Homo sapiens: one gene and its partners. The protein of the gene in region 5 purifies or fractionates together with the protein of the main gene of each other region. This does not show direct contact. Each region holds a gene or a part of one and is shown on either strand. Other genes may lie near its edges.

Region 1 (3,500 bases), on a different chromosome or scaffold from region 5:
TGCTCAGGTCTAAAATTTGGAGTCCATTCTTGACTCCATTTTCACCCTTCTCCCCAGATCCAACATCCAACTCATGTCAATCTTAAACATCTCAGTCAATTCTATTCATTCTCATTCAGATCTCTCTTCTCATTCAGACCATCATCTTTTCCTTAATCTAACTCCTTTTTCACTAGTTTCCTTACCCCTGAGCTTGTCCCTCTTCAATCCATTTTTCACTCTGTCTTCTGAGTGATCTTTCTAAAACATAAATATGATCATTTACTCCCTAAAAGTCCCCTCAGCAGCTCCCCATTGCCTCCATGGTGACAACAAATTCCTTAATATAGCTCTAGAGCCGTTCTGACATTGTCCTTGGACTCTTTAGTTTCATCTTCCTTAACAATCTCTCAAATTCCCTATTTAACAGCCCTTCTTTTACATTCTCTATGGCAGAAATAACCATGCATACCCCCAGCTTTCACCTGTGGAGAAATTATTTTTATACTTCAGGTCTCCACATACACCTTCCTTCTTTCAAGGCTTCTCAGAGTTTCTAAGGTAACTGCTCCTCCTTTGTATCTTACACATTCCTTATCACAGCAACAATCACCCTGGGTTGTAATTTTCTGTTTACTTGTCTGTTTCCTACATGAGATCAGCTCTAAGAGGACAAGAATCATAATGTCTTGTCCATTTAATATTTTGTTTACATGTCTCTTGTACTTAGCACAGTTCCTGCCTTGAACAAAGAGGAGGTTCAAGAAGAAAACTAAATATATCAGTTAAATAAAGGTCAAAATACTTGAACCATATCCTGATATTTTTTTCCTTTTGAGCCTCAATATACTATCACATTATGTCCCTGATATTTTGTGCAGCTCTTTAACAAGCTTCCTGTCTATCAAATTCACTAACATTCTTGTAAGGCAAATGGGAAAAAGGCCTAAAAGAAAAAGCAAAGAAAGGAGTTATGTTAAAAACACAAAAATAAATAAGAACCTTCCCTTTTTTATTATAAAAAACATTTATGTATTTTTCCCTACAATCAAGTAATTGTTTACACAATGCGACTGCATAACCCTTAAGGATCCTACAATGCACCAACAAAACAGAAGATGCTTAGCAAAAAAAACACAAAAAACAAAAAGGGTCTCACTCTGTCACCCAGGCTGGAGTACAGTAGCACAATCTTGGCTCACTGCAACCTCGACCTCCTGGGCAAAAGCAATCCTGCCACCTTAGCCTCCCAAGTATCTGCGACCACAGGCATGTACCACCATGCCTGGCTAATTCTTGTATTTTTTGTAGAGATGGGGTTTTGCCATATTGCCCAGTCTGGTCTTGAACTCCTGAGCTCAAGCGATCCCCTGACCTCGGCCTCCCAAAGTGTTGGGATTACAGGCATGAGCCACTGCACCAGGCCCACTTTATGTTTCAAAAACAAAATAGCAGGAAATTCTCTATGGAGCCTTAGGATGTGTGACTGATAAACAAGAGAAGAAAATAATCAGAAATTGAAAAAGATGATACAAATAAGGAGGTTTTAAAAGCAGAGAACTAATACTCTCTACTTGATAGGTACTGGGTGAAGGAAGTGTCTAGATTATAAGAATAATTAAATTACTAGTGTAAATAAAATATAACAAAAAATGTAACTTTCTTACCAGAATATATCTTCTAATACGTCTAAAGGTAAAGGATGAGGATTAAACACAATAAAAAGTCTTTCTTTCACAGGAGTTTCAGCAGGAGCTTTTTTTTTGCATGATGGAAGTACAACATCTGTCTGGATTTGAGGCAACTGTGATCCAGAGCTTCCTCCAAATTGCTGTTAACAGGTAGAAAACAAGAAAAAGAAAAAAATGCCCTTTAGGGATTTTTGGCCAAGAGCTAAAGACAGATATGTATCATGGCATCTATGTGGTCTTCCACAATAGCTCTGAAAATTTTCATACACAGATAATCAACAAAGCATGATTTCTCTTCACATTTATTTTATATGCTATTGATATATTATAAAGGTTAAATTCTTACCTACTTACCATAAATTGTTGCTGACTTGGGTTATTCCACACCATTGATGCAAGCTGTGCAGCTACCATCTGTGTTGCCATTTTTCTAAGGAGACTGGAAAAAATAACTGATAATTTACAGAAAACTAAAAATATTCAGTCTTTTAACAGTAGCTTGTTTTGTGTGACTTTCTCACCTGAGAGGTCAATTGTTTCTATTTTTATTCTTCAAGTCCTATCAATCATGTACACTCAAAGCTCGGCTTTAGACACTCCTGGAATGGTACTTACTCTGTTGCATTACTTCCATCATCAATGAAGGAAACACCTATTCGGTTCCCAGGAGGGTACTGAAATCCATGTAATTTGTATTTTGCATAAATAGCTGATGCTACATTAAAATACTGAACCACTCCATGACCTAAAATAGAGAACATACAGAAATGAAAAAGGAAAGCAGACTGAGTGCCTAAGGCCTATGTTACAATCTATCACAAAAATGAAACCATGTAGAACTCTAATATCACACAACTAGTAAATACAGAATCGAATGTATCAGAAAACACAGTTCTGTTATCATGTGTGCAACAGGTGTATTCCTAGAAAAGGAAGAAATAATTTAGGGAAAAATATGAACATGATATTTTAGGGAAAATGGAATATTAACATACGTCCTGTCTAATAAGTTTAGTTTTAGGATACTAGCTTTTCTTATATGATACCAATATACTTAAAAGTCTAAATTTTTATTCTTTGAAATCTACTTTGAAATTTTAAGATTTTCCCAACCATACTGGGTAGGAAATGAAATGAGAAGTGATAGTTGAAAAGAATATATACTCATCCCGGCTATCTGCAGCAGTAGGGAGAGGAAAAGTGATTTGAATGAAAAACAAAAAGATAGGGAACAGAGGATCTCAGATCACAAGTGATATATTTTACTTTCCTTTGGAGAGATTTCTGCCAAAGGGACGAATTTCAATTTAGGAGGGTGATGTTGAAGGGAGGGACAATGTTATAATGCATTCCTTAGAGAGCCCAGGAGTTTGTGACACAACTAAAAGGTTTTCACTTTTATAATACAAACCACTGGGGAAACACTTATAATTTATGTTCATCTGGAAACCCAAGCATCCAACATTTTAATGAAATTAAAATAAAACACAGAAATCAAATGACCATATAAAGTTAATTCAAATGAGATTCGAACTATATGATGACACCTCTATTAATAAAAAGATGTTCCAATGACACATATATTTCAGACACATCCAACCAGAGAAACAAAACAGGAGGTACAGGAACAAATACATTTTGACATACCAGATAAAAGGGAGGGAACAAAACAAAATGAACACAACTTCATATGCATATAACAAATGTGCCAGAGAACACAAAAATGTGTGCCTAGAAGTCTTAGAACAGAGAATGACGCATATGATCGGGTTAAGACTGGGGATGGCTCAAAGACAGTTCTACAAAAAGACTAGTGCTGGGTTGGGTACT
Region 2 (3,500 bases), on a different chromosome or scaffold from region 5:
AGCTTCCTGCCGGATGTGCTCCTTTTTTTCAGCACTCTCCATGGCCCACCTACGCAGGAAGCTGCCCTGGGTGAACAAGGCTGTGTCCACTGCCATAGAGTTTTCGATCTGCTGTCCCCTTCTTGCACCAAAGCATCTGTGTCTCTTGCATGTGCATCTCCTCAGTCCCCTAAGACACTGAGCAGCTTCTGGCCCCCCACCCTGGTGTAGCTCTGTCCATTCCTGCCTGGAGCCCTCTTATCACCCAACAGACTTGAGGCTTTCTTGAAGTGGGGTCTCTGTCTCTTTTGTCTCAACCCCCACTACTTGGTATGGTGTCTGATATCTGCTCAGTGTCAGCTAGGGACAGAGCTGCCCACTAGAACCTTCACCTGGGCCCAGGGCCCCAATCCCATCCTTCCCCAGGAGATAGGCTGGTGGCTTGGTCACTGGACCAGACTGCTCAGGTCAGCCGCCATACCCAGGTTTTCGGCAATACGGTTACGGCTCATCTCCAAAGCTTCCTGCCTCAGCTGCAGCGCGTGCTGTGCGATCTCGTCGCTGGCCACATTGGAGGTCATGATGAAGATGGCGTCCTTGCAATCAATGGTCTTCCCTTTTCCATCTGTCAGCCGGCCCTGGGAAGGGAAGGAAGGGAGTGTACAGTCAGGGAGCTATGTGCCTGGGCAGGCCTTAGCACTCTCAGTTCTCACCTCCTTCAGGAGGCCTCCCCAGAGCCCTGTGTCTCCCTCCAGCCCCAGCAGCCAGCTGCTTCCTCCTCTGGGTTCTCCGAGCACTAGACTTGCACCTTGGCTGCTGTGCTCACCGCCCTGCGCTGCAACTGCTCTCCCTACTGAGTGCCTCCAGGTGAGGCTGCAGTTGCTCTCTGGCATCTCTTGGGGCACCCAACTATCCCTGGCATGCAGAAGTCAGTCACAGTTAGCCATTCATTTGTGCAACCAACACATTTTTTGGAGGCCCGCTGTGGGCCAGGATCTGTGGTGGGGTACTGGGGTCCCACTGAGCCTACAACATGCTCCCAGTATAGAGAAGCAGTGAGATACAGGAAACAAGCACTGACCATCCAATATGTTACGTATGATAATAAAGGGAAGCCCAGCATGCTGCAGGAATTCAGAGGAGGGTACTTTACATGGCTACTGTCAGGACTAGATGTGGTTATCTGGTGAAAATTCTTAGTAAACCATGCTGTTCAAATGTTCAGAGCTATTATTACTGTAGTAGGTGATATATAATGAAACAGGACAACCTCTTTTATCTTTGGAGCTGCCGCCTGGCCTAACAGGGATAAAAAATGAGATTGCTTCTTTAACCACCTTGGGAAGTTTCCTTGGAATCTTCAGCTCTTTCTAGAAGGGACAAAGGAGGCATCTATACTGGAGAAAGATGCACCAAAGAAGGAGAAAAGGAGCAAACAGTATAGGGCAGAGACAGAAGAATGATAAAAGTACAGTGTTCTGGGACCAATCAGTTGAAGGGTACAGAGCCCCGCTCACTCAGCGAACCTCAAGGGCATGACCGTACAACAGCACTTTATGTCATTTATAACAAAAGCAATGATCAGGGACTCCTTGAGAGCAAGCAATAGAGTGACAATGCCGAACACGGACAGGGACTTCTACTTTCATCACAGATGCTCTGCTTAGTGCTTTTTGTGTACAACCCCACTCCTTCTACTAGGAAAGTGGCTCCTTGACAACAGAGGCTGGGTCTTGTTCATCACTGTGTCCCAGAACAGCGTCCGGTACAGAGTAGGTGTTTGACACCTGCTTGCTGGAGGCTGGAATCTTCACATCCACCCTTGGAGGTAGGTGCAGTTAGGACCCCTACAAAGAAACTGAGGCTCAGAGAGGATCATAACTTGTTCGAGGTTTCACAGCTAGGATACAGTAGAGGCGAGACTTGAACTATCTGACCTCAGAGCCCATGCCCTTCCTCTGCACCAGGCTACAGAGGTCAGACCAATGGTGCTGGATGAATGAGGCCTCGTGCTATTTTCTTTCCTTCGACAGAATTTTCTCAGAATTCTGCCAAATTCAGTTTGATCCTCACTGGAGAGATGCAACTGGGACAGGTGCTAGGGAGGAGATCTACCTGAGATTTCTTTTGGGAAGCAGAGAAAGCACAGCTCCCGCCAAGCCAGAAACCGTGGCTCTGGGGATATACATCACTGACCTCAGCCTGTTGGCTCCTGCCTGAGCCAGGGATGCTGGGCCCTGCCCGAGCTTCAGGGTTAGCCCTTGCTTCTAAAGCCAGTGTAATGGTAAACCCAGTCCTACTCCTTAGGAGCAAAGGAGAAAGGACTGTGCATCAACCGAGCTAGCTTACTGCATGCTGGGTGTAGTTTCCAGCCTTGCTTTCCACTGGACCTTGGCAGAGGCCTTTGAGAAACTGTTAATTCCCAAAGGGTCTATACACAAGGGGCCTGGTAATCCACATCCTGGAGCTGGTCACTCTGCTGTCCCTGCCTTGGGGCAGGAAAAGGGAAGCAAGGGTGCAAGCAGATGTCCTTGAGCTTTTACCAGCAGCTTTTCACTCTTACCCCACTGCTTATGGGTTCTAATCTAACAGATCCACTGAGGGCAGTTCTAGTTTTGGGGACCAGGTGTGTGTGTGTGTGTGTGTGTGTGTGTGTGTGTGTGTGTGTGTGTGTGTGTGTGTGTGTGTGTGTGACATGTCCAAGCATGTGCATATGACTGTGTGTGTGTTCCATACTCACTTTGCAGAGCTCATCCCTAAGGACTGGGTTCACACACTGCTATACTGGCCAGAGCAATAACCTAGCAGCAATTTCATTCTCAGAGATCAAAGCTCTGCTCATAACTGGGCCTGAGGATGGGTCCCAGGTGGGTGAGGGGAGCAGGTGCAGTGCATGACTGACCCAAAGGGTGACTTTCAGTGCTCATGTCTCCTCCTCAGTTTCCTTAGCAATAAAGATGTGTCTCAAACAGGAAGCTGTCCGTGCCTCACCTCCCTCTAACAACCAGAGCGTGCACATCTTGGGTGGGGCTTGAATGCTCACCCCAGGGTTATGGGGCTGCTTTCCCACTGTCTCACGTATGACTCCTTGGTGGGAGGAGTGGGGGCTGGGCTCTCTGGGGACTAGTCTCTTTCTGGGACTTCTGCCCTGGGGTCACCTGTGAGTGGCCAGCAGTAGACCTGCTTGGTGCTTTGATGAGAGCAATAGGGTTCTTACTTTTCTGGGCCCAGGCTTGGGAGAACTAGACTGGGTAGGGGTGAGGCTGCTTCCCTCACACCTCCAGCCTGGATTAGGTGCCCCTACAACTCCTGGCACTTGCTGCTTGTCCCTAGCGCAGCACCGACCACAGTGGACTGAACTACTTTTTAGCTGCCTGTCTCCGCACTCATTGGTCACGCCAAGGCCAGGGCTGCATCTGTTTTGTCAGTGTCCCCTCTACCCCACACAGCGCCTCATGAATAAATGAATGAGCCACATTCTTTTGGTTGGCTCTTTTTTGTTTTTGAGACAGGGTCTGGCT
Region 3 (2,990 bases), on a different chromosome or scaffold from region 5:
TCTGACCTCACCCTGCTGGCCTGTTCCCCTCACCTGGCCACACAACCAAGCTGGTACCTCCACGCTTTCATCATGTCCTCTCAAGTACACTGTCTCCAGCTACACCCCTGCACTCCTCTCCGGGAATTCTGTTTCTCCTCTACCCAACCAGACCCTGTTCCATCCTCTGTTTTTTCCTTGCTACCAATTCAGGCCCACGCCTCATGCACATTCTCTGAGAATTATGTACATAAGTACCTGACTCTCCTGGATGTAAGCTGGGTGGGCTTAGCAGGCAGAGGCCCTGTGTCTTACTTTATCTCTGCATCACTGATGTCTGGCACATCAAGGACTGCAAGTTTGCTGAGAGAATGAATCGCCTTTTATACATGGAAATGTAAGCTCTAAACTGCCTCAGAGCATATGCTGGTGGGTGACAATCTGAGGAGGTCATGAATATAGGAGAATATTGAAGAGGTCACACAGGGGAAACAACTTTTCATTATGAAAAACTGGGAGACTGACATTTAAATGGTTTATCTGCATGATTAAATTAATCACATTTCCAACAGTGCATCAAGCATCTGAGAATAACATTATTTTGAGTAAAAACAGAAACTCTTCGGGAGAGACCCCCTCCCCACAGGTCAGGCTGCTCAAATGTCCACCATGTCTAGCAGCGCAGAGAGATGGAGCTCAGAGGCAACTTCCTCTTCCCTTGAACTCCGGATCAGCCTTTCCAGGTGCTTTAGTCGTTCGCCTAGACACGTTCCTGTCGCCTCTGACAGCTGCAGTTGCTCCCTCATCATGTCACTCTATTTGAATAAAAAAGAAACTGAACAGTTTTGGGATGTCAATAAACCACGACCTATCTCTGGGAAGGTACTAGATCTGGATCATGTTAGAAACCTCATCTGAGTAGTCATTTATTTTTACAGAGGGAAAAAAATTATCCTTTGTATATCCTTCCAGCCTCATTTAGCTCGTACATTCAGCTGGTATCTGTATATAGACTGTTTGCCTTTGTATTCTATCATGAACAATTTCCAGTGTCAGTCATTTTTCACCCAGGCTGGAACGCAGTGGTATGATCGGAGCTTACTGCAGCCTCAAACTCCTGGGCTCAAGTGATCCTACCAGCTCAGCCTCCTGAGTAGCTGGGACAACAGGCATGTAGCACCATGCCTGGCTAATTATGTACTGTAGAGATGAGATCTCTTTATGTTGCCCAGGCTGGACTCAAGCTCCTGGACTTAAGCGATCCTCCCTCATCAGCCTCCCAAAGTGCTGGGATTACAGGCATGAGCCACCACGCCCAGCCAGTCATTTTTAGAAAATATCATCGTCAAGGGCTGTGAATTATTCTATCACATGAATGTGTTATAATTGTTTAATCAGACTCCCATCTTCGGATATTTATTCTGTTTCGACTTTCATACAATAATGCTACAGTAAACATTTTTATACATTAATTTTTGGGGAATATCTGGTAGGTCAGAATTCTTTAGGTTAGAATTGGTAATTCAAAGGGTATGAATATTTTTAAAGTATTTGCCAAACTGATGAATGGAAACAGTACATCATTTTAATTTGCTTTTCTCCTCTATTGAAGGACTTCCTAAAGCCAGTCCAGGAGCACAGTTTTTACCTGTTCAGTGGCACATATCTGTGATTGAAACTCTGTTTTTGCATCTTTAACCACTGAAGGAAGAATGGTAAGGTAAAAAGACCTTAGGCTTTGGAGCCAGTTGGATCTGGCTTTGAAAAGCAACCTGACCACTCACTACTTGAACACTCTTGGGTGAGGCTCTTGACTTCTGGGAGCTTACCTTCCTCATTCATTAGTTTTCCTCAGGAAAAATTAATCCCAGAAGAGAGGTCTGGGTAATGCCAAAGCTCAGACAATATGTGCTCCAACAGAAGCTGCTGTCATCACCTTAATGCCCTTAATTACACATCAGCACACAGTTACAGGTCTTATTCAGTTCTTAAGAATATTTCAATTCTATTCTTCATTTATTTCGTAGGCAGAAACTCAAAATCAGTTGGGTCTCTTTAACAATGATATGGATAAAGTTTAAGAAAAGGTCTAATTTGAGCTAATAATTTGTCGGTCATCAAAACATCATAGGATAAATCGTGATATTACTTTTTTCCCCAGCCATTCTCTCAATCTTTAATTCTTATGTAAATGCCAAATGTATACGTTCTTCTCACCTGTGGGCTAGTAGTTACAGATGTTTTCATCACAGGTTCAATAGTGTGAGAAAGAGACACTAGAGTCTGAGGAAGATAGAGGGGAAGGGAAGTTAAATCCGTAAATGCTCCTGAGTCTTCAGACAACCATTGCTGAAGCTGATCTTCAAACCTGAAACAATATGTAATAAATTCAAAAATATTTGAGCATTAGGAAGTTAACTATTGTTCATTAATCTTCTATATATACTTAAAAACTTTTTAAGCCTTTGCTTTTTTAAAATTTTATATAATTTTTTTTTTTTTTTTTTTGAGACAGAGTCTCACTCTGTTGCCCAGGCTGGAGTGCAGTGGCATAATCTCGGGTCAGTGCAACCTCTGCCTCCCAGGTTCAAGTGATTCTCCTGCGTCAGCCTCCTGAGTAGCTGGGATTATAGGCAAGTGCCACTGTGCCCAGCTAATTTTTTGTACTTTTAGTAGAGATGGGGTTTCACCATATTGCCCAAGCTGGTCTTGAACTCCTGACCTCAGGTGATCCACCCACCTCGGCCTCCCAAAGTGCTGGGATTACAGGAGTGAGCCACTGTGCTTGGCCAATTTTATTATTATTTTTTTTTGACAAGGTCTCGCTCTGTTGGCCAGGCCGGAGTGCAGTGTTACAATCTTGGCTCACTGCAACCTTGACCTCCCAAGCTCAAATGATCTCACCTCAGCCTCCCAAATACCTGGGACTAGAGGCGCATGCCACCCAGCTAATTTTTGTATTTTTTTGTAGAAACGGGATTTTGCTGTATTGTCAGGCTAGTCTACAACTC
Region 4 (3,500 bases), on a different chromosome or scaffold from region 5:
CTTTCAGCCTCTTCTCATGTGACATTCCTGGGATTATGTTTGAGATCCATGCTAAGTGGGTCTTCAGCCCATCAATGCCCAAGGAACATAATTCCGTAGGATAAAATTGGCTCCAGTCCAGGATGATATTGAACCCAGGAGACCAGCAAGTTATCAGGTCTGGCAGTCTGCCTCCGAGGAACTCCCAGGTAGGCAAGACTTTATACAAAGAACAGGATGGAGACAACTGAGGCAAGACCCACCTTGATCTTCATGGTGCTGGGGGCCAGGGCTGTGATCTCCTTCTGCATCCTGTCAGCAATGCCAGGGTACATGGTGGTGCCCCCAGAGAGGACATTGTTGGCATATAAGTCCTTACGGATGTCAATGTCACACTTCATGATGGAATTGTAGGTTGTCTCATGAATTCCAGCGGACTCCATGCCTAGTGGAGATCACAGTGTCTGGTCAACAGGCATCACTTCCTAAATATGCACACCTCCAGCTCCTCAAATGACCCTTCTTCGATTGTTGCAACTACCCTAGTTCAGAACCTTAATATCTCCCAGAAGGATTATAAGATCATACCCCCTTCCTTGTCATGGCCTTTCCTTTATTGTCCCCAGTTCTGATTGATCTTTTTTTTTTTTTTTTCTGAGATGGAGTCTGCTCTGTCACCAGGCTGGAGTGCAGTGGCGCGATCTCAGCTCACTGCAACCTCTGATCCCTGGTTCAAGTGATTCTCATGTCTCAGCCTCCCGAGTAGCTGGGATTACAAGCACATGCCACCACGCCCAGCTAAATTTTGTATTTTTAGTAGAGATGGGGTTTCACCATGTTGACCAGGATGGTCTCCATCTCCTGACCTTGTGATCCACTCATCTCGGCCTCCCAAAGTGCTGGGATTACAGGCGCGAGGTATTACACCCGGCCTGATCTTTTATACTGTTGCCTGAAGCATATTTCTAAAGGAACACTTTTGTTATATCATCTTTCTTTTTTCATAACTTTTTGAGATATAATTCAGTCATTTTCAGTATATCCACAGAAGCAAACATCACCAAAATCTAATTTTAGAACATTTTAAATACCTTCAAAAGAGACCCCCATACCTAATAGCGGTCACTCCCCATTTTCCCCTCCATCCCTGCCCCAGCCCTAGGTAACAGTGAATCCACTTTCTGTCTTTAGAGGTTTGCCTATTCTGGATGTTTCTTGTCAATGGAATCATACACCATATGGTCTTCTGTGTGTGGCTCCTTTCACTTAGTATAATGTTTTCAAGGTCACAGCATGGATCAATACTTCATTCCCTTTTATTGCCAAATAAGATTCCATTGTATGGATATACTCGTCATGTCATCTGACAGTCACCCATTGCCTGCAGGTTGACATCCAGCTACTGTAGCCTGGCATCACAGTCTTCTAGAGCAAAAGGTCCTGCACGCCAAACTGGCTCTTGCCATCTGCCTGGTCTACTTACCTCTACTCTTTTTTTTTTTTTTTTTTGAGACAGAATCTCACCCTGTTGCCCAGGCTGGAGTGCAGTGACACAATCACGGCTCACTGCAGCCTTGATCTCTGCGGCTCAAGCGATTCTCCCACCTCAGCCTCCTGAGTATCTGGGACCATGGGCATGCACCACCATGCCCTGCTAAATTTTGTATTTTTCATAGAGATGGGGTTTCGCTATGTTGCCCAGTCTGGTCTCAAACTCACAGGCTCAAGTGATCTGCCTGCCTCAGCCTCCCAAAGTGCTGGGATTACAGGCGTGAGCCACCGCGCCTGGCCAAGCCTCCGGTCTTTTATCCATGCAATATGATTCCACACTGTAGATAGAAGAATCTTGCTAAACTACAACCTGACCTTGCTACATTGCTGCCTACAAACTTTCTGTGTTTTAACCTCATTCTTAAGTTTCATGTTATATTTCCTGTTCTGCTTTTCCTGTATCTTGATTTCCTTTCCCTTTTATTTAAAATGAGATTTTTCCCTAATTTTTTTTAAAATACATTTTTGGCCCTTCCTAGGAAAATGTGAGGTACGTGTATGTAATTAACAAAGTGGCCATGACTCCTGGTGTTTCTCTCTCCATACCTCACCCACTCCTCCACCCTCCCCTCCTGAGATTGGCAGGGACTGTGGGCAGCACCTCACCAATAAAGGAAGGCTGGAAGAGGGTCTCAGGGCAGCGGAAGCGCTCATTGCCAATGGTGATAACCTGCCCATCTGGCAGCTCATAGCTCTTCTCCAGGGAGGAAGAGGAAGCTGCTGTGGCCATCTCATTCTCAAAATCCAGGGCCACATAGCACAGCTTCTCCTTGATGTCTCGCACAATTTCTCTCTCAGCTGGAAGGAGCAGAAATGACAGAAGGTGAATACTGAGCTCTGATAGTTTGGTTGTCCCATTTTGATCTCCATGAAAACCTCCTTCTCACATCTACTTTATTCTTTTTTTTTTTTTTTTTTTGAGACAGAGTCTCACTCTGTCACCCAGACTGAAGTGCAGTGGTGCTATCTTGGCTCACTGCAACCTCTACCTCCTGAGTTCAAGCAATTCTCCTGCCTCAGCCTCCCAAGTAGCTGGAATTACAGGCGTGCGCCACTAAGCTCGGCTAATTTTTGTGTTTTCAGTAGAGACAGGATTTCACCATGTTGGCCAGGCTGGTCTAGAACTCCTGACCTCAAGTGATCTGCCTGCTTGGCCTCCCAAAGTACTGGGATTACAGGCGTGAGCCACCACGCCTGGCCTCACGTCTACTTTAGGTTCAGTCATAGGATGATGATAGACTTGCCGCGAAGAGGGTCAAGCGTCACTCCATTCAATCTTAATTCTTCCACTCCTCTTTCTAAAGAGGGAGTCTCAAGTCTTGATTCCCATGCAGGACTTTGCATGAGATTTCTGACAAAGCCTTAGGCCTTCCTGGGGGCTTTGCAGGACATATTTCTGGTCTAGACTCAGATGTTTGATCTTACAGAACCTAGAGAGGCTCCCACCTAAAAAATGCCGATTGCCCAGGTGGGCCACATGACACCTTCCCCTTAGAAATTCGGGCCTCACTTATTCAATTTGTCCTCAAACCAAAGGTGCCCCTAGGTAATGAAATGCATCAGCAGATCTTCACTACCATTCAGCCTGTGGAAACTAGCCCTAGTCCTGGTGTGGACGTGGACAGAGGCAGCTGGTCTCTGGGGAAGGAGGGACTGCTTCCATGACTATCTGGTCTTATCCAGAGGCCTAGCCCCAGCTTAAGGCCTCTCAGTCTATCTCAGGAGAGTTTAAAGACACAGAGTCACAGAATTCTCATTGGTCCTGAGAACTTCTTGTCCTAAACCAGATTGGTTCTGAGCTCCAGTCAGAATCAGAAAAGGGGCTGGATACCTGTGGTCACAAAGGAATAGCCTCTCTCTGTGAGGATCTTCATGAGGTAGTCCGTGAGGTCACGGCCAGCCAAGTCCAGGCGCATGATGGCATGGGGCAGGGCATAGCCTTCATAGATGGGGACATTGTGGGTGACGCC
Region 5 (3,351 bases):
AATATTACTGTTGCTAGCTTTCTCCTTTTTATCTCTTACCTTACTTGGGGCATTTCCCATCTTGGGTCCTGGTTAAGCTCAATCTCCCCTGTTGGAGATGTCTCGCCTATCCTTTAGCCCCACCTGCTGGAGGCTCCTTGCATTCATGCACACTTTCAACCCCCAGAATATCCTGACCACCAAGGAAATACTTTGTCACCCCTGCGATGTTTCTTAGCTTGGTCTCTGCACACTTACTTGGTCGCTGTGGTACATGAGGATCCTTTCCCCCAGGTCGCCAGCCCGTTTCTTTCTGCCTTGCTGAGAGTATAGGTTTATTCGTCACACTGGTTGGTCTCGATTCCTTACCCCTGTGGCCACCGCAACAAGGCAGTGGGACGTGCCTCCTCATGGGAGAGGTCTAGACCCTCCTCAGAGGAGGATGGGAATCCCAAATGAGACCCCAAATTTGTTAGAAATAAATTTTCAGTGCCACAAAAGAAATAGCACTCAAACATACATTTTCTCAGCAAGGCAATTTTACTTCTATACAAGAGTGCGTCTCATGGATGGTGCAATGGCGAGAGCACACCGGAACAAGGGAGGGGAATGGGTTCTTATCCCTGATGCAGGTACCCCCTACTGCTGTGTTGTTCCCCTATGGGCTAGGGTTGGACCGCACAATCTAAGCTAATTCTGACTGGCTATTTTAAAGAGAGCAGGGGTATAAGCCAGAGTGGTGGGGTGAGAAGTTTAGACAGGAAAGATGGTTACGGACCAGGTGACTAAAGGTGACTCAGGTCAGAGCAGGTGACAGAGGCTAGGAGGGGATTGTTTACTGAAACTAGGGGCAAGGAGACATAAAGAATGAGGAAATTAAAAGTTAAAATGAAGAACAAAGAACAGGTGAGCTGAACATACTGATACATTGGTTCTTTGGAGAGGATCTCAGAACTCAATGTACTTAACAAATTACAGGCTAAAACCTTTGAAGAAGAATTTATGATATCCTACATTATCATGGGGTAAACAATTCGTCCCTGACAGAATAAGGCTACTGGAGTTCTCTTCTTGTAACTCTGGGAAGGACTAGAGGGAACTGTGTCTGCAGTGGGGCCAGGTAGTTAAAAAGTCTGGACTGGGCCGAGCGTGGTGGCTCATGCCTGTAATCCCAACACTTTAGGAGGCCAAGACAGGTGGATCACCTGAGGTCAGGAGTTCGAGACCAGCCTGGCCAATGTGGTGAAACCCTGTCTCTACTAAAAATACAAAAATTAGCTGGGCGTGGTGGCAGGCGCTTGTAATCCCAGCTACTTGGGAGGTTGAGGGAAGAGAATTGTTTAGACCCGGGAGGCAGAAGTTGCAGTGAGCCGACATCGTGCCATTGCACTCCAGCCTGGGTGACAAGAGCGAAATCCATTGCAAAAAAAAAAAAAAAGAAAAAGAAAAAGTCTGGACCAAGCCAAGAGGGGAAGAGGACGTCCCCATGAAAGAGCTTTGGATCCAGAAAGCCCGGGTTCTTGGAATTCTTTTTCTCTTTTCACTTTTGTTGTAGCATACTTTGTTCTTTTTTATTTTTTATTTTTTTGAGATGGGGTGTGGGGGCTTTACTGTGGGTCTTGCTTTGTCACCTAGGCTGGAGTACAGTGGCTCGGTCTCTGCTCACTGCAACCTCCACCTCCCAGGTTCAAGCAATTCTCCTGCCTCAGCTTCCCAAGTAGCTGGGATGACAGGCATGCTCCACCATGCCCAGCTAATTTTTTTTACCGTTAGTAGAGACAAGGTTTTGCTATGTTGGCCAGGCTGGTCTCGAATTCCTGAGCTCAGGTGATCGGCCCACTTTGGCCTCCCAAAGTGCTGGGATTACAGGTGTAAGCAACTGTACCCAGCGCATGTTTTATTTTAATTTAATTTAATTAACTTATTTTTTGAGATGGAGTTTCCCTCTTGTTACCTAGGCTGGAGTGCAATGGCGCAATCTCGGCTCACTGCAACCTCTGCCTCCCGGGTTTAAGTGATTCTCCTGCCTCAGCCTCTCCAGTAGCTGGGATTATAGACATGTGCTACCACGCCTGGCTAGTTTTGTATTTTTAGTAGAGATAGGGTTTCTCCATGTTGGTCAGGCTGGTCTCAAACTCCTGACCTCAGGTGATCCACCTGCCTGGGCCTCCCAGAGTGCTGGGATTGTCCTTGGAATTCTGAGTGGATACATGAAGAGTTAGTAAGAACCAGTGAAAAAGCAATCACTTATGATCCTGGGCTTTGAAAAATCACTGTGATTATCTTATGCACTTACAAATGAGACTAAGACGCCTGATGGGAAAGTGCAGATTGCTGGTGAGGAAGGGCAATGAAGAAGAGACTAGGAACCAAATTCATCATCATTATCACACAAAGGCATTTGGAAATGTCACCTTACACATGGTGAGCACATATGGGTGCCAGCCCGAGACAGCAGGATAAGTTTCACAAAACTTGACCAGGCAGGTTAGAAGCAAGGCATGGTTCAGGATGGCAGAGGGCAGGGAGACAGAAGGGAGTAGGATGGGAGAGAAGAGCCAGCTGGAAGATGAGTCAGGGGGTGCAACTGGGGAGAGCAGCTCTGAATCCTGCTTCTCAGTGAGAAAGTTGCTAAGATGGCTTTGCAGGGAGCTGTCCTATCGCTGCTCGAGATCAGCCTGCTGGGCCTATGATGATAAGCAGGGCTGACCCTCTTGGGCTCTGTAGCTAAGCCCAAACCCTGCTGAAAATGGGGCGGGGAGGTTGAGGCAGTGTGTGGCAAGTGACACAGACGGGGACTCCCAGCTGGGGGTCCCTGGAATTACTTGACATCCCACAGCTGGTGTCTTCAGCAGTCATCTGGGGCAACAATCCCACCTGCCCATTGTGGTTGTTGAGGATATCAGAGCTTTTGTTTTAAAGCGCTTGCCACAAACTCTTAAGATGCGGATGGGTTTCCCCTGTGAAGCACTCCACAGGCGGGATGCAGGCCCATCTGAGGAGGGGCTTGGAAGGAAGAGGAGCACTTGAGACGGGGCAGAACTGGGCTGGCCTGGGGCTCAGCGACAGCTCCATTGCAGACAAACTGGGCTGGGGAAGGCAGCTCCCACCTGGCAGAGGATGCCCTTCTGCCCCCTGACAGGAGGGAGGAGACCACCGCATCCCCGACTTTCAGCCCTCACGTGCCATCTGGTGGCTTTGCTGCAGACACTGCCATGATCTGAGTGGTCTTTGGCAATCACGCATTGGCGGGAGTGTGAGGTTGCGGGGAAAGAGGGACTGACCATGGGCCTAGGTGGGGAGGCCTGGCCACTGTGCCCACAGCTTAGGAAGGGACAGTCAGAGCTCCTCTTTGTTGCTATCGACGGACTG
Region 6 (3,500 bases), on a different chromosome or scaffold from region 5:
ATGAGAGAGGGTCCCTGCCCACCTATCACTGTGTCTTGGCACAGGGCACAGGACTTGGTTCTGGGTGGCCTTCAGTAAACACTAAGTGGGCAGGATACAGCTCTCATATTCTAAACTCTTTCAACCCAACAGGGAAGATGAGTAGAAAAGGCAACTGTAACGCGAGACCAGGCCCAAGAAGAACAATCTAGTGGGTGGTTATCCACCTGAACAGTCGGTCCTTCCGTGGTGGCATGCTGCCTCCAGCCAATCTTTTTTTTTTTTTAATTGAGTTACGGAATCTGATAGACAGACCCAAGTTCTCAAAAACAAGTATGTTTTGAGCAGTTGCTCCAAGGACTTTTTTATTTTGTAATATTTTAACATTTGTATGCCTTAGAACTTTTTTCCTTAAAATTTTATTTCCTTGTGTTTGCTACAAGTCGTTATTTGGGGAAAGCACAAATTTCTTCATTTGCAACACGCACAATACAGTAGGGAACAAATCAGCTTTGAGCCCGGCTTGAGCACCAGCTTCACAGTGGGCCAGGAAGAGGAACTCCTAGGACCCCTCCTAGAAGCCCAGAGGGAACCATTCCAAGGGCCAGGACAGGAGCTCTCGGCCTGAGGCTCAGGTGAGGGCTGCTGCGGTAGGCGCCTAAATCACTGACGGAATTCTCCTATACTTGGCCCTGTTCACGTGAATCCACATCATTCTTTGACTTGGGAGTTAGGCTAGAGTGGCTGAAGCTGAGTCATGGCTATGCCGCCTCTGAGGAGCCTTAAAGGCAACTTCTTTCCTGAGCTGTCAACTCAGGTCCTTCTGCCTCAATTCCCACATGGAGAAAGTGGCACAGAGGGAAGGTGGTCCGACCCGAATCCCGGCAGCTCTGATGACAGCCCCATCACTCCCAGAAAGCCATGCTCTTCCGGAAAGCCCTTACCAGACAGAGCTGCTTAACGTCATCCAGAAGCCAACCTGAGCCCTGTGCGCCATCAGGTGGGCTCGGGTGAGCACCCATCACTCCTTTCACTGTCTCTCCACACTCCACAGAACTGTCACAATCCCCATACCTTTGTGAGGGGCTCTCAAGTTGCCATCTTGAAGGCCAAAGGTAGAAGATGTGGGAGCAGGGGGTGGAGAGCTGGGCTCCTTCATGCGGTTCACCACGTTTTCAGACAGCTAAGGAAGCAGAAAAGAGGGAAAAGAAAAAGTTATGTCACAGAAGTGCCTGGAAGCAAAGCCTCCTCTTTATTCAGGCCCCAGATTTACTGAATGCGCTGCTTCCTCAAGACCAACTCCAACAAAGCAATTCTACTAAAACTCCTCTCGTGGTGGCCCAGTGCCTACCAGGTCCATGCTGAGCCCATCCGGATTCCCAAGCCTACCAATATATGTCCCCTGCTGGCTTTGCGGCTTTACCCCCACCACTTCCCTCCACACACCCAGTCCTCAGGGGAACCTGATGTCTCACTTTTCTCACCTCTTCTGAATTCAGGCATGCTCTTCCCTCTGAACCACCTCCAGCCCACCACCTCCCTCTCTGGGACATCTCCACCCATCCAAATCATATCCTTTCTTTGGAGGTATCTCAATGTCCCCTTCTCCAGGGAAGGCTGCTCCTCGACAGCATGCAAGTGAAGCACAGGTACCTCCTTCTATCACATTTCTCTTTATTCCACTTTGCAGATAACACATTTTTTTTTTTACAAGTTGAAGGTCTGTGGCAAGCCTGCATCAGGCAAGTCTACTGGTGCTGTCTTTCCAACAGCATGTACTTTGTGTCTCTCAGTCATGTTTTGATAATTCTCATGATACTTGAAGCTTTTTCATTGTTATATCTGTTACAGTGATCTGTGATCAGTGACATTTCATGTTACTCTTGTAATTGTTTTGGGACACTGAGAACATTGTCCATGTAAGACGGCGAACTTAACCGATAAATGCTGTTGTGTTCTGATGGCTCCAGCAATGAGCCATTCCCCGACCCCTGTCTCTCTCCCTCTCCTTGGGCCTTTCTATCCCCTGAGACACAACAAAATTAGGCCAATTAATAACCCTGCAATGGCCTCTAAGTGTTCAAATGAAAAGTCCCATGTCTCTCACTTTAAATTAAAAACTACAAATGATTAAGCTTAGTGAGGAAGGCATGTCGAAAGCTAAGATAGGCCGAGAGCTAGGCCTGTTGCACCTAACAGTTAGCCAAGTTAGGAAAAGTTGTTGAAAGAAGTTACATGTGCTACTCCTGTGAACACATGAATGGTAAGAAAGTGAAACGGACTCACTGCTGATATGGAAAAAGTTTTAGTGGTCTGGATAGAAGATCAAACCAGCCACCGTATTCCCTTAAGCAAAAGCCTAATCAAGCCCAAGGCTCTCTCTCTTTTCAATTCAGTCAAGGCTGAGAGAGGTGAGGAAGCTGCAGAAGAAAAGACTGAAGTGAGCCAAGGTTGGTTCATAAGACTTAAGTAAAGACACCATCTCCATAACATAAAAGTGCAAGGTGAAGCAGCAAGTGCTGATGGAGAGGCTGCAGCAAGTTATCCAGAAGATCTATGTAAGATCATTGATGAAGGTAGCAATACTAAACAGAACAGTCTTCTACTGGGAAAAGATGCCATCTAAGACTTTCATAGCTAGAGGGGAGAAATCAATGCCTGGCTTCAAACCTTCAAAGGACAGGCTGACTCTCTTGTTAGGGGGTAATGCAGTTGGTGACTTTTAATGGAAGCCAATGTTCATTTAGCCTTCTGAAAACTCTAGGGCCTTTAAGAATGATATTCAATCTACTCTGCCAGTGCTCTAGAAATGGAACAACAGAGTCTAGATGACAGAACATCTGTTTACAACATGTTTTACTGAATACTTTAAGCCCACTGTTGAGACCTACTGCTCAGCAAAAAAGAATCCATTCAAAATATTACTGCTCCTTGACAATGCACCTGGTCACCCAAAAGCTCTGATGGAGATGTACAAGATGAATGTTATTTTCATGCCTCCTAACACAGCATCCATTCTGTAGCCCATGGATCAAGGAGTAATTTTTACTTTCAAGTCTTATTATTTAAGAAATTCATTTATAAGCTTAGAGCTGCCATACATAGTGACTCCTCTGATGGACCTGGGAAAAGTAAACTGAGAACTCCAAGGAAAGGACTCACTATTCTGATGCCATTAAGAACATTCATGATTCATGGGAAGAGGTCAAAAAATCAATATTAATAGGAGTCTAAAAGAAGTAGATTCCAACCCTCATGGATGACTCTGAGGGGTTCAAGACTTCAATGGAGAAGTCACTGCAGATGTTGTGGAAACAGCAAGAGAAGTAGAATTAGAAGTGGAGCCTGAGGATGTGACTGAATTGCTGCAATCTCAGGATCAAATTTGAACAGATGAGGAGTTGCTTCTTATGGATGAGGAAAGAAAGTGGTTTCTTGAGATGGAATCTGCTCCTGGTGAAGATGCTGTGAACACTGCTGAAATGACAACAAAGGATTTAGAATAGGATCATAAACTTAGT
Region 7 (2,400 bases), on a different chromosome or scaffold from region 5:
TCTAATGCCTCCTCCTCCACAGATGGGCTGACCCTGGGGGCCCAGCACCTGGAGGCAGGCGGCTCCCTCACCCGGCATGTGACCCAGGAGTTTGTGAGCCGGACACTGACCACCAGCGGAACCCTTAGCACCCACATGGACCAACAGTTCTTCCAAACTTGACCGCACCCTGCCCCACCCCCGCCACGTCCCACTAGGCGTCCTCCCGACTCCTCTCCCGGAGCCTCCTCAGCTACTCCATCCTTGCACCCCTGGGGGCCCAGCCCACCCGCATGCACAGAGCAGGGGCTAGGTGTCTCCTGGGAGGCATGAAGGGGGCAAGGTCCGTCCTCTGTGGGCCCAAACCTATTTGTAACCAAAGAGCTGGGAGCAGCACAAGGACCCAGCCTTTGTTCTGCACTTAATAAATGGTTTTGCTACTGCTAGGCCCTGCCTTGCCCATTCTTCTGGGGCCTGAGAGGTGCTCCCCTAGGGTAGGGGAGCGGTTCTGACATCCCCCATTCTCTGACACCCAAGCATACACCCACCTCTAGAGGAGGCAGGTACCACATTGGAGGCACAAGTTTATTGAGCACCCGGATATGGAAGATGGCACCGGGCACAGAGCCGTGGGACTGGCCTGCAGGCCCCGCACCCTCACCGTGTGCTGTCCTGGGGGTGCCTCACAAGCACAGCACCTTGGCTCCATCGGCTGCTTGAGAGAGGTAGAAGGTGGCAGTCCCGCCGTAGTGCTCCTGTAAGAGGCGGGCTGGGGGTGAGTGGCAGGGCCCCGGGAAGCTGCCGCTCCTGCCCGCCCAGGCCCTGGTGCCCGCCCACCTGGATGTGCCGCATGGCGTGGGGAGCAGCGGAGGCCTCCAGCAGTGTCACCGTGCAGCCACCGAAGCCACCGCCCGTCATGCGGCTGCCATAAACCCCAGGCACAGCAAGCGCAGCCTCCACCAGCTGGTCCAGCTCTGGGCAGCTCACCTCATAGTCGTCTCTGCAGAGAGGATATTGAAGGGGTGGGCCTGGGCCGGCCTGTGCCCGGCAGGAGCGGGGCGCCCAGAGGGCCTCACCTGAGTGAGCGGTGGCTCTCCACCATGAGGCGGCCAAAGGCTCTGTAGTCGCCACGTCTCAGGGCGGCCGCTGCCTGGGCCGTGCGCCGAATCTCCCCCACCACGTGCCGGGCCCGCCGGAAGCCCTCTTTGCTCACCAGGTCCCTGGCAGCTGGGGAGGAAAGAGGAGTCAGCAGCCGCCTTCTCACTGCCTGGGGCCCCGACGCCTGTGAGGACCAGCAGGCGGTGATGGCAGTGGCCCTGGCTGGACGGTGAAGGGTGGAAGGCCGCGGGGGCAGGGCAGCCTGGCTCTCTCAGACGTGGGTCTGAAGAGCCCCTTTATCACAGTGCCTCCTCCCCCGACTGTAAAATGGGACACCTTGGTCCTTCAGGGAGCAGTGAGGGTTGAAACACTCCATGCTTTCCAAGGTGAGTGCTGCCCTCAAGAGGCCACCACAGAGCAGGAGGAGAAGAAGTTCTGCTGAGCCACATGGAGCCTCCAGGGCTGGGGCTCCAGAAGAGGGGGCAGAAGCAGCCAGGGACCAGCAGGCTGTCCCATCTGACTGGAGCTGAGGCTGGAGGGGTACCTGGGTCAGTACCAGTACTGACTCAGTGTACTGCGCCCGGCCAAACCCGCAGGTTTAAGGGGGAAGGTTGTTAGGGTAGGTGGCATGGCGGGATGGAGGGGCAAGTAGATTCAAAGGACTGAGAAATGAATGGGTGGGCGCGGTGGCTCACACCTGTAATCCCAGCACTTTGGGAAGCTGAGGCAGGCAGATTGCCTGAGGTCAGGAGCTCGAGACCAGCCTGGCCAACATGGCGAAACCCCGTCTCTACTAAAAATACAAAAGTTAGCCGGGCATCGTGGCAGGCGCCTGTAATCGCAGCTACTCAGGAGGCTGAGGCAGGAGAATTGCTTGAACCTGGGAGGCGGAGGTTGCAGTGAGTGGAGATCATGCCACTGCACTTCAGCCTGGGTGACAGAGTGAGGCTCCCTCTCAAAAAAAAAGAAAGAAAGAAAGAAAGAAATGAATGGAAATGAGACAGTGGGTGGTGTTTTAGGAGGGAAGAAAACTGAGCATGTCTTGGAGGCTGAGGGAAGGAGCCAGGCAGCCAGGCAGGGGATGGAAGGAGAGGGATTGCGCTTCTAGGGCAGGACTCTGGAGGAGGCAGGGTGAGCTGCTCCTATGCAGAAGGAGACCTGGAGGAGGGGCAAGGACAGGCTGGGGTGGGGAGGAGGGACCAACTTGTTCCAGTGTGAAAACCTTGGCCAAGGGCATCTGCACAGAGCAGGCAGGGCAGGTCTGAGCACTGCTCTGGAGAACGTGACACAGTTCACAAAGGAAAAGGACAGGGAGGTCCCTCG

Evidence for each region.
Region 1: the proteins of FOXRED2 (region 5) and RBM45 purify together in Homo sapiens (affinity purification with mass spectrometry; 2 studies listed by BioGRID and IntAct, with this or other methods). This does not show direct contact.
Region 2: the proteins of FOXRED2 (region 5) and CLPB purify together in Homo sapiens (affinity purification with mass spectrometry; one large-scale study listed by BioGRID and IntAct). This does not show direct contact.
Region 3: the proteins of FOXRED2 (region 5) and MCM3AP purify together in Homo sapiens (affinity purification with mass spectrometry; one large-scale study listed by BioGRID and IntAct). This does not show direct contact.
Region 4: the proteins of FOXRED2 (region 5) and ACTG2 purify together in Homo sapiens (affinity purification with mass spectrometry; one large-scale study listed by BioGRID and IntAct). This does not show direct contact.
Region 6: the proteins of FOXRED2 (region 5) and CHCHD6 purify together in Homo sapiens (affinity purification with mass spectrometry; one large-scale study listed by BioGRID and IntAct). This does not show direct contact.
Region 7: the proteins of FOXRED2 (region 5) and GALK1 purify together in Homo sapiens (affinity purification with mass spectrometry; one large-scale study listed by BioGRID and IntAct). This does not show direct contact.

What each region holds. Positions count from the first base shown.
Region 1 is NC_000002.12:178,122,437-178,125,936, reverse strand, and holds part of RBM45 (RNA-binding protein 45), read right to left. Parts: intron 2,416-3,500; coding exon 2,286-2,415; intron 2,110-2,285; coding exon 2,025-2,109; intron 1,811-2,024; coding exon 1,647-1,810; intron 1-1,646. UniProt on the Homo sapiens protein: RNA-binding protein with binding specificity for poly(C). May play an important role in neural development.
Region 2 is NC_000011.10:72,295,032-72,298,531, forward strand, and holds part of CLPB (mitochondrial disaggregase), read right to left. Parts: intron 618-3,500; coding exon 461-617; intron 1-460. UniProt on the Homo sapiens protein: Functions as a regulatory ATPase and participates in secretion/protein trafficking process. Has ATP-dependent protein disaggregase activity and is required to maintain the solubility of key mitochondrial proteins.
Region 3 is NC_000021.9:46,234,633-46,237,622, forward strand, and holds the end of MCM3AP (germinal-center associated nuclear protein), read right to left. Parts: intron 2,348-2,990; coding exon 2,197-2,347; intron 1,695-2,196; exon of another isoform or gene 1,592-1,694; intron 795-1,591; coding exon 636-794; 3' UTR 501-635; downstream 1-500.
Region 4 is NC_000002.12:73,913,508-73,917,007, reverse strand, and holds part of ACTG2 (actin, gamma-enteric smooth muscle isoform 1 precursor), read right to left. Parts: coding exon 3,362-3,500; intron 2,329-3,361; coding exon 2,137-2,328; intron 425-2,136; coding exon 243-424; intron 1-242. UniProt on the Homo sapiens protein: Actins are highly conserved proteins that are involved in various types of cell motility and are ubiquitously expressed in all eukaryotic cells.
Region 5 is NC_000022.11:36,486,690-36,490,040, forward strand, and holds the end of FOXRED2 (FAD-dependent oxidoreductase domain-containing protein 2 isoform 1 precursor), read right to left. Parts: coding exon 3,319-3,351; 3' UTR 501-3,318; downstream 1-500.
Region 6 is NC_000003.12:126,724,740-126,728,239, reverse strand, and holds part of CHCHD6 (MICOS complex subunit MIC25), read right to left. Parts: intron 1,163-3,500; coding exon 1,054-1,162; intron 1-1,053. UniProt on the Homo sapiens protein: Component of the MICOS complex, a large protein complex of the mitochondrial inner membrane that plays crucial roles in the maintenance of crista junctions, inner membrane architecture, and formation of contact sites to the outer membrane.
Region 7 is NC_000017.11:75,757,394-75,759,793, forward strand, and holds the end of GALK1 (galactokinase), read right to left. Parts: intron 1,207-2,400; coding exon 1,056-1,206; intron 980-1,055; coding exon 817-979; intron 735-816; coding exon 663-734; 3' UTR 501-662; downstream 1-500. Other genes in the region: ITGB4 (integrin beta-4), read left to right, coding at 23-162. UniProt on the Homo sapiens protein: Catalyzes the transfer of a phosphate from ATP to alpha-D-galactose and participates in the first committed step in the catabolism of galactose.